Linked DNA regions of Homo sapiens. The protein of the gene in region 3 interacts with the protein of the main gene of each other region in a biochemical or structural test. Each region holds a gene or a part of one and is shown on either strand. Other genes may lie near its edges.

Region 1 (4,468 bases), on a different chromosome or scaffold from region 3:
CACCCACCCTTCTCAGAAGAGAGCTCTAAGTTGTTCAACATCATTACTGTTGTCCTATCATAGAAAAGGCATTCACCACTCTGTTTTGATGCCACACTCCTGGGAAATGAGAGTTACTGATATAGAAGTAATTATCAATATGTGTGTTTTCAGGGAGCATCAATTTTGTGGAAATGTTCTAGTTTACTTTTGCTTCTAAGATTTGGAGAATCTGGATCCTGGCCTCATGTTTTCAGATATGGTCCGAAATTGACATGTTGAGATGTCAATCAATTACAAATTGAGTAGAATTGATAGATTATGCATTAATGGCCACGGTTTAAAATATGGGGGTTCTACTCTGGAAGACTGAAAGCTCAGTCCCTGCCCCTGTGACTTGGTATCTCTCCTGAAAATGAGCTGTCCTCTGTGAATCTCCTGGTGGCCATGTCTAGCTCCGTCACACTGGCTAGTCAGTCCTTTCAATCCTTAGAATCAGGTCACAGTTTCACTTCAGAGATCTCTTCCATTACAACCAGGCTGGGTAGGGTTGAAGGGTAGCTTTTTGTTTTCGTTTTTGTTTTTTTTGGTAGAGACGGGGCTTCATTATTTTCTCTAGGCTGATCTTGAACTCTCGAGCTCAAGTGATCTACCTGCCTCAGACTCCCAAAGTGTTGGGATTATTACAGGTGTGTGCCCACACGCTGGGCCTAAGGGTACCTTTTTATGTCTGCCCAGGGCTTGGCACAGTCTCACTGGCCTTCACCAAATATTTCCCTGCCTTGACTCCAAGATTTCCTTGCTGTTCTTTACCAACCAGAAAAATCATTGTTGTCATTGTTAGATTGTAGAAGGTAAGATTGAAGTTCTCACATGAGATATTAAAAACCATGTCCTTTGAGACCAGTATCATAGTTCAAACTCAGCCATGTGGATTTGAAGTTAAGATTAACTCGTATATATGAATGCATATATGTATAAATAGTACTAAAATAAACGGTATAAGGTTGTGTATTTTCTATGGGAAAGCAGTGTCCTAAGTTGTTTACATGTGTTACCTTACTTAATTCTCACAGCCACCCTATGTTGGTGCTATCCTTGTCCCTATTTATTCTCATTTTATAGATGGGGCACAGAGACATTGTGTGACTTGCTCAACAATAAACAGCTAATAAGGGCTGTGCGTGGTGGTTCACACCTGTAATCCCAGCACTTTGGGAGGCTGAGGTGGGCGGATCACCTGTGGTCAGGAGTTTGAGACCAGCCTGGCCAACATGGCAAAACGCCATCTCTACTAAACATACAAAAATTAGCTGGGTGTGGTGGCACGCACCTGTAATCCCAGCTACTTGGGAGGCTGAGGTAGGAGAATCACTTGAACCCAGGAGGCACAGGTTGCAGTGAGCCAAGATGGCGCCACTGTGCTCCAGCCTGGGAGACAGAGGCAGACTCCATCTTAAAAAAAAAAAAAAAAAAAATGGGCAGCTAGTAAGTCTAGCCAGGATCACATCCAGAGTTCCAAGCAATACTCCTAGTCAATAGTAGCACTGCTACTGATTGCTTTTTCTTTTCTTTTCTTTCTTGTTTTTTTTTTTTTTTTTTTTTTTTTGAGACAGAGTCTCACTCTGTTACCCAGGCTGGAGTGCAGTGGTACACTCTTCGCTCACTGCAACTTCTGCCTCCTGGGCTCAAGCAATCCTCCCATCTCATCATCCCAAGTAGCTGGGACTACAGGCGTGTGCCACCACGCCTGGCTAATTTTTATATTTTTTTCGTAGGGACTGGGTATCGCCATGTTGCCCAGGCTGGTCTCGAAGTCCTGAGCTCAAGCAATCCATTGTCCACCTTGGCCTCCCAAAGTGCTGGGGTAACAGGCAAGAACCGCCGTGCCCAGCCTTGCTAGTAATTTTCATGAACTAACTCATCTAATTCTCACTGCAGCTCTATGCAAGAGATATTATCAGTATCACTCCTTTACAGAAGAGGAAAGGGAGGCCACAGATGTTTAAGTGATTTGCTCAGAGCTAGAGTCATAACCCTGGCACCTGGCTCCTAAGCCTCTGCTTCTTGCCACTATACATCGTCATTCAAATCCCTCAGCTCATTCTAAGGTTTCAAAGAAGAATGTAAGTTAAATATTGCCAATATCTGTAAACACATGAATGACCTCAGTCCCTGTTCAGACACGGGGTTGGTGTTGGTTTGGGGGAGGGGAAATAAACACCAAGAATCATCTCTGAATTGATCTCCACTCTTTGCATTGCTGTGTTACTCCTGTTTCAGACCTCACCTCCACCCGCGACAACCCAGTCCCCTGAAAGCACTATGGATACCTCACTGAAGAAGGAGAAGTCAGCCATCCTGGATCTTTATATTCCTCCTCCGCCTGCTGTTCCCTACTCTCCCCGGTATGTTGCTGTCCATTGTCATGGTATGCTTGTCTCCTGTTGGTGTCATTTGTAAATGGTGGTGTGAAAAGAGGATCTTGAGAGAGGAAGTTGCTGAGCCACAGTGTGACAGGGCTGAATCTTGAACTGCCGTTAAAAGTATGATCAGCCTTATTTTATAGGAGTGTAGGGACATATCTGGGTTCTGTGGGGCTTGAAGCTATACAGTTTGGTGGGGAGGGCCCTTCTGAGAAAAGAATATGGCAGTATTGGCCAGGTGTGGTCGCTCACACCTGTAATCCCAGCACTTTGGGTGGCTGAGGCGGGCAGATCACTTGAGCTCAGGAGTTCAAGACCAGCCTGGGCAACATGGTAAAACCTCATCTCTATAAAAAAATACAAAAATTAGCTGAGTTTGGTGGCAGATGCCTGTAGTCCCAGCTACTCAGGAGGTTGAGGCAGGAAAATCGCTTGAGCCTAGGAGGTGGAGGTTGCAGTGAGCAGAGTTTGTGCCATTGCAATCCAGCCTGGGTGACAGAGCGAGACCCTGTCTCAAAAAAGAAACAAAAGGATATAGCAATACCTTACTTTTGAAAAACGAATGAAAACGTGCTCTCCTGGGGCCTTGGAAGGGTCTATTGGGGGCCCTGCAGGTTAAGTTTCATTAACTCCATGGTAAATTCATCTTGAGGGGGTAGATAATAAGTATTTCTGTGAGATTAATGAGAGTTGCAGCTTGATTTTGCTGAGAAAGATGTGTTCTTCATAGAACTTGAAAAAAAACCTATGTGGCCAGGTATGGTGTCTCACGCCAATATTTCCAGCACTTTGGAAGGCCAGTTCAGAGGATTGCTTGAGCCCAGAAGTTCAAGACCAGCCTGGGGAATATAGTGAGGCCCCATCTCTACAAAAAATTTAAAAAATTAGCTGGGTGTGGTTGTGTGCACCCGTGGTCCTAGCTACTCAGGAGGCTGAGGTGGTAGGATCACTGGAGCCCAGGAGGTCGAGGCTGCAGTACAATACACCATGATCATACCACTGCACTCCAGCCTGGACAACAGAGTGAGACCTAGTCTCAAAAACAAAAAAACAAAAAACAGAAAAACTCAGACCTTGTGAGTGTAGGTATGAACATTTCATATTTGTGTGTGTGTGTGTGTGTGTGTGTGTGTGTGTGTGTACCATAAATTCTTAAAAAGATAGTTGCTTTCTTCATGGCTAACTTGAATACTGTATGGTATAATGAGGGTGGTATATAGAGTGTACAGGATGATTTAGGTGTGATCTAGGCTTATTTTTATCAACTCACATATTTATATATGTTGATAAAACTAGACAATCTGGCTCATTTATTCAGCATATCTTTCCTGAGTATTGGGTCTGGGTTACCCTCTGACACAAAACAGACTCGGTCTTTGACCCTACAGAACTGCCAGGGTCTTATTCAACAATTCAAGCATATATTGAGAAATATATGATTAGGTTATAATATTTCATAAAACAAAGTTCAGGCTGGATTTTATTACAGTGACATTTTACTTTCTATCAGAATTTTTTGTTTGTTGGTTTTCATTTGAAGCTGAGGTATTTGCTTCATTGTATTTCTTCTGCATTGGGTGCAGAGATTCAACATTGTTTTCCATTTCCTTGAGTCTTGGCTTACTCAGAACTTATTATAGCGTGTAGAGAATGTACCTCAGGTGATCGGGGCATTCTGGTTTGCAGGATCTTAAGTGTGTTTAAAGTTACAGGTAGTCTTTCCCTCTGCATATAGAGAGCATGACATTCCACTACTAATGTGTGGATTGTTCTATCAGAAACTGGAGGAAGGCACCCTCCCTTGATCCAGAATATTCTTGTCTGGGTTCCTGGAGTAGTGGCAAGAAAAGGGGTGCTGTGTACATAGTGAGAGATAAAGGAACCTGGGGCTAGGAGGAGAGCTGGATTAAACTGCTCGGGAAGACGCTTTTGAGAGTGCACACACACCACTCATGAAGGATTTTCTGAGGAATGAAAAATGGGAATGGATTACTGAGAAACAAGTCATGAGTCATGAAAGCTTTGTGAATGGGGAGTTATATGCCCGGTTTAAAGGTATGGAA
Region 2 (4,468 bases), on a different chromosome or scaffold from region 3:
ATGAGCTTCCTTATTTGATTTCAGATCCTCCTAAGGGAAGAGATTTCAGGATTTCCTGGTTGTAAAGTGGAAGAGAACACTTTGCTGAACTTGTATGACATCACCTGAAGCATTAAAAGGGCAGGTGACCATGGGTTCTCTGCCTGTTTACCAAAGCTTCTTTACTTCCTCAATCTATTTTATTTTTAAATGTCAGAGTAGTCTGAAACCTTTCAAAGATATTCAGGCTGCAGAAGCAGAGGAAATATTAGGATACATTCTTTAACTTTTGTGAGAGCTTTTAAATAATCAATGGATGGACTTTTCGAATTGTTATATATCACAGTACAGATATTCTGACATTAAACCATGTGAAGAATAAATATAGTTTAACAACAAAGGGCATGAGGCCATCTCTATTTCTAGGAAGTCTGTGAAATGGCTCTTTAGAGTACAGACCAGAGGCACAAAGAGAGTATTGCATTTCCAAAGAATACAATATAATAAAATTTAGTTTATCAATGAAAATTAGAATATTATACAACAAATGAAAATAGTAAACACAATCTTTGTTTTAAATATATTTTTCAAACTCCACTTGGAAATCCACATATATTATAGAACAGATTTTAAAAATGTAGCTGTTGCAATATTATTTATTAAAAAGCAACAAAATGAGAGCAAATTATATTTAAGCTTATACTATAAAAATATTTTCCAATATACTTAAAACACGAGAGCCACATAGCTAAAGCAAATAGTATTTGAAAGATCTTACACTGGATATGTAATAGACAAGACATTTCTCACTGTAATAAATTAATTTCTTTGTTATACAAAACCCCTCAACCGTAACTTCATGAAGAAATGTGAAGTGGTATGAAAATGACCTTACCTCATATTCAAAGTCTTCTGTTCTGTCTGCATCAGCAGGCAAGCTGGAAATATACTCATTGTCCTCATAAAATTCATGCTCCATTGGATGTAGAGAATGGCAGCTATGGGGAATGTAGCAATATGATAGGAATAGATTAAATGGGTTGTTTTCCAGATTAAAACTGATTTTAGAATTTCACTTTAGTTTGCTCTGCTTTGGAATAAGATCTGTAGTGATCTAGTCTTTAAACAAACTACAGCTGAGGAAAAGCAATAGCTTTTCTTTCTCCCTCTACGTGAAGTCCATCAATTTGCAATTTCTGAGAGAATGCTAGGAATAAGGGCCTATGGTCAGAGTTGTATTCTGTGGAAAGACTGATGTGAAATCTCTGACAGTCCGTGGTGCTTTATTGATACTTTCTGGCCTGCTTCCATTCCACTGAATGTGACAAGCTCCATACGTGGGTGTGTGGCATTTGAGATTGCAGTCTACTCAAAGAGGGGTATTTTGTCATAAAGTACTACCAATTTCATAATCCACAGCTGCAAACTATTTTTTGAAAACCATTTTCAAAAGCACTTATTTTTTCAGACTCTAAAATGTGCTCACATTGTCCCCTCCTCTCTTTCTTAAGATCCCCCTTTCTCACTCTCCCTCATAATGCACATTTTCCCCTCTTTGATCAAGGACATATACACAAATATTAAAGAACATTCATGGCGATCAATCAGTGGAAACTCCTATAAGCCACAAGGTTTCAAAATACCTTTAGAAAATTCTCAGTGACAGAGAGAGCAGATTACATTAAGGAAATGAGAGGATATGGCTTTTATGTATTTCAACTTTTAGGAAATTTTTAAATAGTTTGTAAACATGTTATTCGATTTAGTATGTTCTGATATAAAGACTACACATCATACCATATGAAGACTAAGCATAGTTTAACAGCAAAGAGCATAAGGCCTTTTCTATTTCTAAAAGACACTGAAAAAGCCTAAATACAATTGACAAGTTGGTTGCAGATGAGACCTCTAACTCCTGCCAGTGTGGATCTTTTTGAAAAATTGGAGATAGCAGTATCAATTAGTTCCCTTCTCCCTTGTTGAAAGGCAAGAGACCCATCCTCATGCCCTCATACTATAGTCAGCGTAAATATTCTACCAGCCTCTCCTCACTACTATCTATGGCTGTCAGCTCCACACAGGTCTAACTAGTGTAGGCCAAAATGGTAAAAGTAATACAGGCAGCACCTTGCCTTGTGTCTACCAGATAAATCTCCTTGCTTATAGCTGGACTGGGTCCGCATAGCCCTTTTGGGCTCTTGGAATATCGAAGCCTGCTGCTTTGGACATCTGATGTGTTTCCCTTGTCTTTCGGATAGTAAGAAGGGAGCCCTGCTGTGAGGAACACTTTATTCATTCGACGTTTATTTAGTGGCTGCCAGATGCAAGGCCAAGTGCTGGAAATATGTTGGTTTACAAAATCCAATTCTGCCCTATTAATTGGGGAAAGCAGCAAAGTGGGAATTTTAATACAGTGCAATAATTAAGGGAAAAATACAGGAGCCTTGGGAGCACATGGTAGGGGTGGACCCACTGCAGCCCTAGGAAGTTTTCTAGAGGAGGTTGTCTCTAAGCTAAGGTCTGCAGGACCTAGGAAGAGCAGCAAGATGCACTGGCTAAGGGGGTAGGCATTGGGGTCAGACCTCTTAGGCCTAGAAGCCTGGCCCTGTCACTTTTTTGCTATGTGATCTTGGCCATGTTACTTAATATCTGTTCCCTCATCTTAGACATAGAATGTTGATAATATAATGTACTCCCTCCTAAGATTATTGTGAGAACTAAATGAGTCAATAAATGCAAAACGTTTGGAATAATACTGAAAGCATGTTAAGTTAGCTAATACAAGCTAGCTATTATTATTCATTCAAGGAAGTATTTGTTGGATGGCTACTATGTTTTAGGCTGTATTAATGAATATTATATATTTGTTTCCTTGCTTTTTGTTCAACTCCCCTTGTAGAATATAAACTCTAGAAGGCAGTGACTTTATTTTTGTTCATAGTTTTATGCCAAGCATCTAGTTGCAAGCCCTGACACATCCAATTTGTGTCTGATACAAAGGGCTATTTAAAATAAAGAGATACCCAAGACAAACAGATCCCCTGCCTTCCTGGAACTCGAAGTCTCAAGAAGTGTTTTCAAAACTTGGCTGCACATTAGGATTGCCTAGGGAGACTTTTGAAAATTTCTGATGCCTAAGCCTTACTCTAAGAATTCTCATTTAATTGGCCTAAGGAGTGATTCAGGTACTGATACAGCTTCTGAAAGTTCCCAGGTGATTCTATTGTACATCTGTGACCCACTGAAACGGGCTTATGGGAGCCAGCCATCAAAGGGCAGGAAAGTGGCATGACTCAGATCTTTGTTTTATGAAGTAGAGAGCGGATTGGAGTAGGTGATGAAAATGCAGGCTAAGGAGACTATTGCTCTTACAAACTCTCAATGTTTGAATATTTGCTCGAAAGCTCACAGAACACAATGAATTGGGCAAGCATACTTTTAAAACTGTTCAAGTAGGATTATTTGAATAAAATCTCTCTGACTTCCTTTAAATTAGGCAAAAATCAGGAGGAAGTATTCCTTGAATAGATCTTTATTTGATAGCACTATACTTACTCTCTGACAGCCAAGATCCTTTGTTTATATCTCAATATATTGGGTAAGTGCTTTCGTCAGAGAATTGCACTTTAATTAAATCAATTTCCTAGCTTCTCTTTAAAGAAGAGAAATGCAAGGAAGAGAGAGAGGTGGCCCACAGAGGAGAATGTGGTGCCAAGATGCCACTTCCACATGAGTCTTAATAAGGTTTTTGGCAGCTTTGGTGAGAAAAGTGATTTCCCTGACCAGTGTTCATGAGTAGCATGAGGCTTTTGACAGCTAGTAATATGAAGATGAACTAATCAGAGCCAGAATTTTTCACAGCAGCTAGCAAGTATGATTACCCAGGTGGAGCAACCATGTGGGTCAGGGAGAGTAGCTAGCAGGGACCACTGAGAACTAATTGCACATATCAAAACAGGGGAGACATTTTCCAAACGGAGCTGGGAAGCCTGTCTCCATAACTGTCAACCTGCTAGTGGAACTGCTTCTTTTCAACATCTGCTTTACGTGACAAATGGAAACAAACAGGGCTTTGGAAGAAATGATAGAAAAATACCTGTCTGAGAGCAGGAATGGACAGATGTCTGGCACTGGAGGGGTAGGTGGACGAAGCTTGGCCAGAGCCATGATGTGTTCGAAGGTGATGTCCGTCTGAGTGCTGGCATTCATAAGCTGCACTTCTGAAGCCATCCCATAGGCTGGTCTACTAAGAGGTGTTCGCCTTAACACCTGCACCACAATGGGCTCCTTGGCATTGCGAAAAGCTTCCACTGCCTCTTCATGAGTGGCCTTTGAAAGATCCTTCCCATTGACCTACAAACATATAAGGACATTGTTCATCTCAGAGGAAAGATCAGAGAGGCTGTCATGATAGATTAATAAAAGACAGAGAGAAAGGTTTCAACCAGCCCTGATATGAATTTTGTAATGGAATATTTAATCAGATATT
Region 3 (4,395 bases):
AGTCACTGCCAAGATAAAGCTATCTTCTCCCAGGACTTCCTTCTGTAGTCCTAAATTTGCTCATTTGGACATTTTCCCCTTCGGAAAAAGCTCTTCTGAAGAAAATGCAACTTGGTTCCCACTCTGTGAGTGTGTGTGCAGGTGTCAATGCATGCAGCCATAGAGGAGCCAAGTCAGGCTGCAATAGTGAGCTTGCTGATTTCATCTAATACCTCCTCCTGGGAAGAAAGACTAATAACAGAGAAAGTCAAAGACACAACAACAGCACACTCACTACTCAAATATGTACAACAAGCTAACACATTCTGATGCTTAAATAAGTTTTAAATGTTTTCTGTCATCTTTTTCCATTGACTTTCTTCTCTAGTTGTAGAGCTAGGACTTAGTTTGGCACAGCAATCAGACATTTGGGGACTATCCCCTTGTTAATATTTTTCTCCTCACCCCTGCGGAGGTGGAGCACAGGTGGCTGGTTTAAGTGGGTTAGGCTGGTGGAGTTCCAGAGTTGAGAACCAGTGCTTGGAATCTGAATTGTGCACCTCAATGAACCAGCCATTGGACTGAATCAGGTAATTGAGCACGCTAAGTTTGTCTGAGAAGTAGGGAGAGGCCAGTTTTCTCTTGATAAGTGGGAAGGGACAGTTAACTAAAGGTATGAGTCAAGGGTGGGGTGAAGATGCAAGGCTGACCAGAGAGAACCTCTCTGGGCATTGGGGTTTGATTAGATTTGCCCTGACTGGGAGAAGGCATTTTTGAAAAATGTGAATTAGTATTTGGAGCGATTTAGGAATAGTTTGTTTTCATGAGAAATTTGCAAGAAGAACCACAGGAAAGCACAGGCTTCTAGCCTTCATTTCTCCAGGCCCATGTTTTTTCTGATCACTTCAATGCCCCTCTGTACTCAAGGGAAAAGGGCAAGATGGGAGATTTGAAGGTGACTTGAGGACTGACCCAACAGCCTGTCCAGAAGATCAGGCCAAGATGGAGCTTGTGGGGAAGGGCCTAGGCTGTGACTTAATTGTCAGGCAGTCCCTAGTTCAGGCATCTAAGTCACAGAGCTCAAGGCCTGGTTGCTCCATATAGTCTTTTTATTGGGGAAGGGCACAGTTGCTGATGAAGAGTCTAGGACAGATAGAGCAAAAAAAGGCAGCATGCCAGCTTAAACCCCTTCTTTAGGGCATTGGTGTTTTTGTTCCCCTTTCCATGGCCTGGCTCAGAATTTTAAGGGGGCGTCAGAATCAGCTGGGCCATAGATCCCAGCCACCTCTAAGACGCTGAAAATGCACCAAAAGATTTAGAAGCTCCACCAAGAAATAGGGCAGTTGGTAGAGGTGTATGTGTTATTGTTATGTAGAGTAAGGGGGAGTGGGAAGGGATTCCTGGATTAGCACAATAAATTATAGGGTCACTTAGAGGTCGAGTTGTATTTTCAGCTCTTAAAAATATATATGCGTATGTATATATATATACATCTTTATGTCTCTATACATAATCTATACTGCAGCACAGCGGCAAAACATTTAGTTAAAAAATCCAGCAAGAATGCAGGCAAACACTCCGTGGAGGCATGCAGGCTAGGATCAAGGCAGCAGGAGGGGAGCCTGTATGGTTGCCATGAGGGGTGAGTTCCAACCAATGAGCCCACCAGAGCACCACCTGGACATATGCAGACATACAAGCACACATAGAAAAACGCAAAGGGTTTGCAGAGAGAGAGAGAGGTTACCATATCTACAAAAAGAGATTTCACATGGTCATCTTAACAGGAAAGTGGACAAGCCCCCAGGATCTAGTTCTCATTTTAATGAGCCAACTAGAAGAGATCTCCTGAAGGTGCAAGTTGCAGTTGGCAGGGATTCGGAGAGACACACAACCAAGTCTGGCTGTCCTGCCTGCCCCCTTCTCTTCATCTCCCTGGGAGTCTGTGTGTCTTTCATTCATTCCTTAGCATTGATAGTTTCTCTGCTGGTCAGAGAAAACCATTCCAAAACTCCCTGAAGAGGTGAACTCCCTTGAATCCTTTATAGATCCCAGGCCATTCATAAAGAGCTTATCCCAATAAATACTGTAGTTGCTCAAGATGCACAAAGAGAAGGAGAACTGAACAAGACAACTCGGAACAAGAACCTTTGGCCAATGAGGAAATGTAAACCTCTAAGGAGACCAGATTAAGTCCAGGAAAATGCATTAGTGAAAAGAATTGGAGGGTCTTTCTTGGTGGTGCTCATGTTTGTTCTGAAATGATTTAGTCTAGCCTGTATTGAGGTTTTGAGAGTTTTTTTAGTAGAATTCTCAATGTTGTGAGTTCTTCCAGCTTTCAAGGGCTACAGTTGAGATCTCGATGGTGTTAGAGGATCATCACCCTCTGCTTCATCTTCACGATGTCTGCGGTGCCATAAATTGCCTTCAGAGGAAAAAAAATGGTATAGAAATAATGAGGTTAGCACAATGCCAGATGCCCAAGTATGTGGACCCAAAAGAGAGCAAAAAGTCTGTTAGAAGATAGACTGGTTTGTTCCTATTGTACTAACCATCTCTGAATCATCAGGGAAAACCAGCTGAAACCAAGTGAGCTAAAGACAAATGGGATGAATTTTCAGAACCTGATAATTTATGGAACTGATATTGACTCTGTCAGAGTCTTTAGAAATATTTGCAAACACTATTGTCTCCCAATTGACAGACTCTTAAGGAATCAAACCAGTTCGACCATACCTGAGAAAATACAGCTCGATCCAAGAGATTCTCTCTTGGCATTCGTGCAAACTCTTAGTTCCTTGAAAACAAACTGCTACCCTCTGTCCCTTTCTTTTTTTCTTTTTTTTCTTTCTTTCCTTCTTTCTTTCATTTCGCTCCCTTTCTTTCTCCTTCCGTCCTTTCTTTATTCTTCCTCTTTTTTTCTCCCTCCTTCCTTCCTTCCTTCCCCCTCCCTGCCTCCCTCCTTCCCTCCTTCCTCTTTCTTTCAAGATGAGGTCTCACTCTATTGCCCAAGCTGAAGAGCAGTGGCATGATGACAGCTCTCTGCAGCCTCAGCCTCCCAGGCTCAAGCAATCCTCCCACCTCAGCCTCCCAAGTAGCTAGGACTACAAACGCACACCATCATGCCCTATTAATTTTTTATTTTTTGTAGAGACAGCAGGGTCCCACCACGTTGCCCAGGCTGGTCTTGAACTCCTGGGCTCAAACAGTCTGCCTGCCTCGGCCTTCCAAAGTGTTGGGATTACAGGTGTGAACCTGTTCCTTTTTTTTCCATGTCCACTATTACTGCATCTCTCAAGCTTCCAGGTTGTCTAGGACCAAAATTTAGGAGGGACCACCATTTACATCAGAATTGGCACAACTGAAAACTCTAAGAGAACCTTCTTTTGAATCCTACTGATATGTCAATAGTGCTTAAGGCCAATTCTGAAGAAAGAAGAAATGGAACCAAAATTCAAACAATAAAATATACAGATATGTTGCTTTTCTACCACTTACTATAACAGGAACAAAAGTGTTTAGATAGGCCACAGAACCTGTTCCTGACCCTTAGGAGTGAATCAGGCAGAAAAATCACCGCCTGTTTGCATTTTTGTTTTCTGTATATGTTATGGAGACCACACAGGTTCTCCCCTTACCAGTGTCCATATCACTTTCTCTCACCTTGTCCAAGATATGGCTTGGTATCACTTACTGCTGACTCCCAGATGGCCTCCCGCTTCATCATCACCATTCCCACAAACATTTCTAATGGGGGCTTCAGGTCCCTGGGAGGTAGCCAGGCTGTTGGGGGAAGTCTTCATGACCCCTCTGCCTGTGGGGGAGACTTACCAATAAAACTCTGGACACTCTGGCCTGATTTAGGCTTGCGTTCCTCTTCTACCTTTTTCTTTCCCAATTTGGGGAACTTAATTTTCAGCCTGAGGCTTCTACTGTCAGTGTCCGAAGATTTTTCCTGAGAAACCACAAGAGGAAGGTCAAAATGTTAGTTGCCTAATATTCAAAGATAATTGCTGGAGTCCTGGAAAAGTGGTAAACAAGAATGGCTACAGAGAACAGGGAGATCTGCTCTCTATCCAGGTATGAGAAACACCCCCATCACTGGTCGCATGCCCTAGGAAAGCAATTGATCCTTACCAAGAGGCTACTTGATGCCAGGTGCTTTGCTAGCATTAATAAATGCTCTCATACAACTCTCAAAGCAACCTTGCAAAGTGGTTATTAACATCCCTGTATCAGAGATGAGGAAGCAGAAGCTTGGAGAGGTTAAATATTTCACCTGAGCTCATGTGGCTAGGGATTAGAAGGATGAGATTGCTAGCGCCACTGCTAGCTCACATGGAATCTCTGCATGAATTAGGAAAAAACACCTCTTCCTTCAGACATATAGTTTGGTGAGCCTTGGCCAAATACCTT
Region 4 (4,468 bases), on a different chromosome or scaffold from region 3:
TATGCTGTTTCAGGGAGGCCTGGCGTTCCTGAGGTGAAAGTGAGCTGTATCCCTTTGCGGTGATACTGAAGTGAGAATTATATAAAATTCAAAAACACTCTTACTAGTTGCATTAGACATGATTAAATTATCTTATGTATTCAGTTAAACGAAAGCCATATAGTGATACAAGGAAATTGCTTTGGAAGTTGGTATATGTATTAGTCCATTCTCACATAGCTGTAAAGAAAGACTACAGACTGGGTGGTTTATAAAGAAAAGAGACTTAATTGGCTCACGGTTCCACAGGCTGCACAGGAAGCATGGTGACCATCTGCTCCTGGGACGGCCTCAGGGAGCTTTTACTCATGGCAGAAGGCAAGATGGGAGTAGGCATCCTACATGGCAGGAGCAGGACTAAAAGAGGGGGAAGGTGCTACACACTTTTAAAACAACCAGATCTCGTGATCACTCACTCACTCACCATCACAAGAACAGCACCTGGAGTTGGGCTTAACCATTCATAAGAGCTCTGCCCTCATGATCCAGTCACCTCCCACCAGGCCCCTCCTCCAACACTGGGGATTACAATTCACCATGAGACCTGGGTGGGGACACAGATGCAAACCGTGTGAGTATATATGAGCTATGTGAGATGGGAAAGACAAGGATTGATGTTAGTGAAATAAATGCTTTGTGATCTGAAAGATACCGCATAAAACTGATGTTGTAGGCTTTACATGTGTGTCTTAAAGTTTTGGAGCCCCTGTGTGTGAAAGAATCTGCATCGCCTACATGCTGTACCAGTGTCATCCTTGGGTGAACGTTTCCCCTTGAATAACGGGGAGAGATTTCAAGGGTTTGCTCTGCTCTGCACTTCTGACAATAGCAGGAGATAGAGGAGAGCCCTTTCCTCTGCCCCTTCCAGGGTGCAGCCGTGTTCAGAGCATGTAACTGTCCAAATACCAAGTTCTGGGGTCCCACTTCTTCCCTTACTGAGTATGTAGACCGTAGGTTAGAGGGGCTTTGATTAGTCATTGAAAGTGGCTTTTCCCAAACTATTGTTATTATTATTATTATTATTAAGACTGAGTCTCACTCTTTTGCCCAGGCTGGAGTGCGGTGGCATGATCTTGGCTCACTGCAACCTCCACCTCCCAGGTTCAAGGGATTCTCCTGCCTCAGACTCCTGAGATTGCTGGGATTACTGGTGTGTGCCACCATGCCTGGCTCATTTTTTGGTACTTTTAGTAGAGATGGGGTTTCACCATGTTGGCCAGGCTGGTCTTGAACTCCTGACCTCAAGTAATCTGCCCGCCTTGGCCTCCCAAACTGCTGGGATTACAGGCGTGAGCCACCATGCCTGCCCCAAGCCAGTATTTTGAATTGTCCCATTGTTGTAGGCCCTGGAGATTTTTTTTTTTTTTTTAATTGCTGAGGGCAGTGCACAATGGATGAGAGGTTTGTTTTGCTTTTGGTAACCTGGGGGAAGTGCTTTTTGAAAGGGAGGTAGAAAAGGAGATTTGTTCTTGAGCAATTCAGTTTCACAAAGAATCTGTGGAGGTTAAGGTCTAGTGGCTGATTCCCATAAAACCAGTGGTTCTCTGTGTGTGGTCCCCAGATCAATAGCATCAGCTCTTTCAGGAACTTGTTAAAATGCAGATTCTTAGGCTGTACCTCAGCACAGTCAAATCCAGAACTCTGGGGGGCCTCCAGGTGATCCTGGCACAAACACGTCTGATCTTAGATGACCTTCCCTGACTCATTCATACAATGTCTAGATGATATAATGACTAGTTTTCCATAAACATTACTTTATTTGTATATATTTTGGAACCAATCTAATTAGTTTTCAACTGTATATGTACCACCTGATGAATAAAGATCCCGAATTGCCGAGTGAGGAATGACAGGAGCCGGAACCCTTGGGCATGACCCTAACCTCATGTCCCCCTGGGGTCCTCTCTTGGAGGGTATCCTGGAGCTCTGCGGGCAGCTCATGGGCATCTGAGCCAGGGTTGGGGTCTGCTGGAAAAGAGGTTAGTCCCTAGATGTTTCCCAAACCTGGACCACCTAATGACAGCTCCTGAGGCGGGTGTACATGTCGCCTTTAGGAAAAAGACCAGACCATCATCCTGTCTCCCTTGGACTTGTATGATTTTAACCAGGTTCCTTTATTCTTGCAATTTCATGTCTACTTCTGATCCTTTTGAAATGTAACCATTACTAAAGTACAAATCAAATGAAGACACTTCCTAGCTTAAAATTAAGACCCGTAAGGTCTTAATGGTCTTTTGCCTTTGGAAACAGTCCCGAGGTTTCATCCGGCCTTGCGTCCTCTCCTGCCTCTGAGTTTCCTAAGCCCTGCCCCAAGCTGTGCAGATGTCCCTTCAGCAACCACAGATGAGGCAAGGGACCTTGCTGAGGAAGGATTCTCCTTTCATGCCACCCAAAAAATTAACATTAATTTTGACGTTGCTTTTTCCTACAACATGAGCTACACAGCCCGTCCTATCCTGTCCTCAGGATATTCATCTGTGTTGATGACTGAGCTGTCCCTCGGTCAGTGTGGACGAGAGGGCCGTCCTGGGTCTCTGTGGATGAGCGAGCTGCTGCCTGAGTCACTACTGCTTTTAATTGTTTAGGGTCCCTCTTCCTGTATTATAATTTCTTATTTAGTCACTGTGAGCTCTGTGAGAACTGAGCTGTTTGTCACTATCTCCCCAGGCCCTTGTGGAGAATTAATAAATACTTGTCCTTTTATTTTCTTAATACAACATTTTAAATTCATCAGCCTCTGTAGCAAACAGTATGAGATATCTCAGAGAACTGAAAATAGAGTTACCATTGGATCCAGCAGTCTTACTATTGTGTTTCTACCCAAAGGAAGAGAAATCGTATTAAAAGCATTTGTAGCTTCATTCCAGCACTATTCATAATAGCAAAGATGAAATCAACTTATGTGTCTATCAGTGGATGATTGATTAAAGAAAATGTGGAATGTAAATACTTGTTTGTTAAGTACACTAACCACACCTTATTTCTGGATATTTCTCTGGTATTTATTAATGCCCCTCCCCCCACCCCGTCTCTTGCATTGTAGTTTGGGGCGGAATTCCGAAGGTTCTCTCTGGACCGTCATAAGCCTGGGAAGTTTGAAGATTTCTACAAGCTGGTTGTGCACACCCACCATATCTCCAACAGTGATGTAACTATTGGCTATGCAGATGTGCACGGAGACCTGCTGCCCATCAACAATGATGACAACTTCTGCAAGGCGGTTTCTAGTGCAAATCCCCTGCTCAGGGTCTTCATCCAGAAACGAGGTACTGAAGTGGTTGAGTGGCCGGCTGGTCTTGTTGAGAAATCATTTTTAAAATACAGTTTTCAATTTTTTCTGTCATTACAGGACTATGTGGTTCGTTTTCTAACCTGTAGTAGGAGATTAAAGAAATTAAAAATTGTTTCATCAGCATTAATAGACAAAATACTAAACTGTGTTTTCTACTTTAAATGATATTGACTTCTGACTTTTAAATACTGAAGAAAGAATAATATTGATACTTCCAGTCATTTAACTAGAAGTGAAATGACTCAGTGATAAGGAGGCTTGAGTCAGTGGCCTCAGAATGAAACTTGGGGTTACGGTGCATGCCCTCCATCATCTTGTTAGGAGGAGGGAGCATGTTAGCTTTCGATGATAACTTTGGTTAACTTTTAGCTCTGAGGCCCAGTTTCGCTATAAGTAATAATATCATTTTATGTTAAAATAAATTACTAACATAGGTTAATGGCTGAAAGGGAAGGGGTGCCCTACTGCTGACTTATTGTGGGACCTCATACTGCTCACGTCTCTGGACTGCATTTAGATTTTTTTTCCATCTCCAAACTTCGGAGAACCTTGTTGTTTCAAAATAATATGCTGAAAGAAAGAAGCACCTGCAGGTGAGGCTTGATATTGGGAAAATGGCATTTTTATAACTGACTGCCTCTCCTTTGGGCGGCCCCACGGTGCAGGTGGTGAACACTGACCACCTCAAGGAACCAAGCAGCCAGTGGTGACAGTTGCAAGGTGAGGTTGCAGTGTGCCCTGTCTGCCCTCATGGATCTGCTGCCAGAGTCTCTGGGACAGCTAGGAGAGGTTTCCCGGAGGAAAGGCTGAGCTGAGACTAGAGGAAGCAGCAGCAGGGTGCTGGGTGGGAGGCGGGCTGGGCGAGTTCTCAGACGAGGCCCTCCGCCTCCTTCACCCCAGCGTCCTGCTTTGCAAAACGAGGGTCCTCATAGTAACCCCCATCCAGTTTCTGTGAGGGTGATGCTGAGCAGCGTGCTGCCAGCTCCTCGTCCCTGCTCTGTAAATACTAGCTATGGCTGTTATTCCCATTTGTGGTGATGAAGGGAACGGCAGGAGACTCGTTGACCTCACTTCAGACAGATTCTCTGGCACAAGATCAGAACACTCTGCATCTGCAGTTCTCACTGGGCCTGGGTA

What was found. Proteins that work in one complex are often made in the same cells at the same time.
Region 1: the proteins of DGKK (region 3) and CNKSR3 interact in a test that uses a peptide from one of them, tested with the Homo sapiens proteins (one large-scale study listed by IntAct).
Region 2: the proteins of DGKK (region 3) and PDZRN4 interact in a test that uses a peptide from one of them, tested with the Homo sapiens proteins (one large-scale study listed by IntAct).
Region 4: the proteins of DGKK (region 3) and PARD6G interact in a test that uses a peptide from one of them, tested with the Homo sapiens proteins (one large-scale study listed by IntAct).

The regions. Positions count from the first base shown.
Region 1 is NC_000006.12:154,412,218-154,416,685, reverse strand, and holds part of CNKSR3 (connector enhancer of kinase suppressor of ras 3), read left to right. Parts: intron 1-2,262; coding exon 2,263-2,387; intron 2,388-4,468. UniProt on the Homo sapiens protein: Involved in transepithelial sodium transport. Regulates aldosterone-induced and epithelial sodium channel (ENaC)-mediated sodium transport through regulation of ENaC cell surface expression.
Region 2 is NC_000012.12:41,506,320-41,510,787, reverse strand, and holds part of PDZRN4 (PDZ domain-containing RING finger protein 4), read right to left. Parts: intron 4,333-4,468; coding exon 4,076-4,332; intron 978-4,075; coding exon 875-977; intron 1-874.
Region 3 is NC_000023.11:50,366,616-50,371,010, forward strand, and holds part of DGKK (diacylglycerol kinase kappa), read right to left. Parts: intron 3,935-4,395; coding exon 3,811-3,934; intron 2,405-3,810; coding exon 2,325-2,404; 3' UTR 1-2,324. UniProt on the Homo sapiens protein: Diacylglycerol kinase that converts diacylglycerol/DAG into phosphatidic acid/phosphatidate/PA and regulates the respective levels of these two bioactive lipids.
Region 4 is NC_000018.10:80,201,547-80,206,014, reverse strand, and holds part of PARD6G (partitioning defective 6 homolog gamma), read left to right. Parts: intron 1-3,082; coding exon 3,083-3,305; intron 3,306-4,468. UniProt on the Homo sapiens protein: Adapter protein involved in asymmetrical cell division and cell polarization processes. May play a role in the formation of epithelial tight junctions. The PARD6-PARD3 complex links GTP-bound Rho small GTPases to atypical protein kinase C proteins.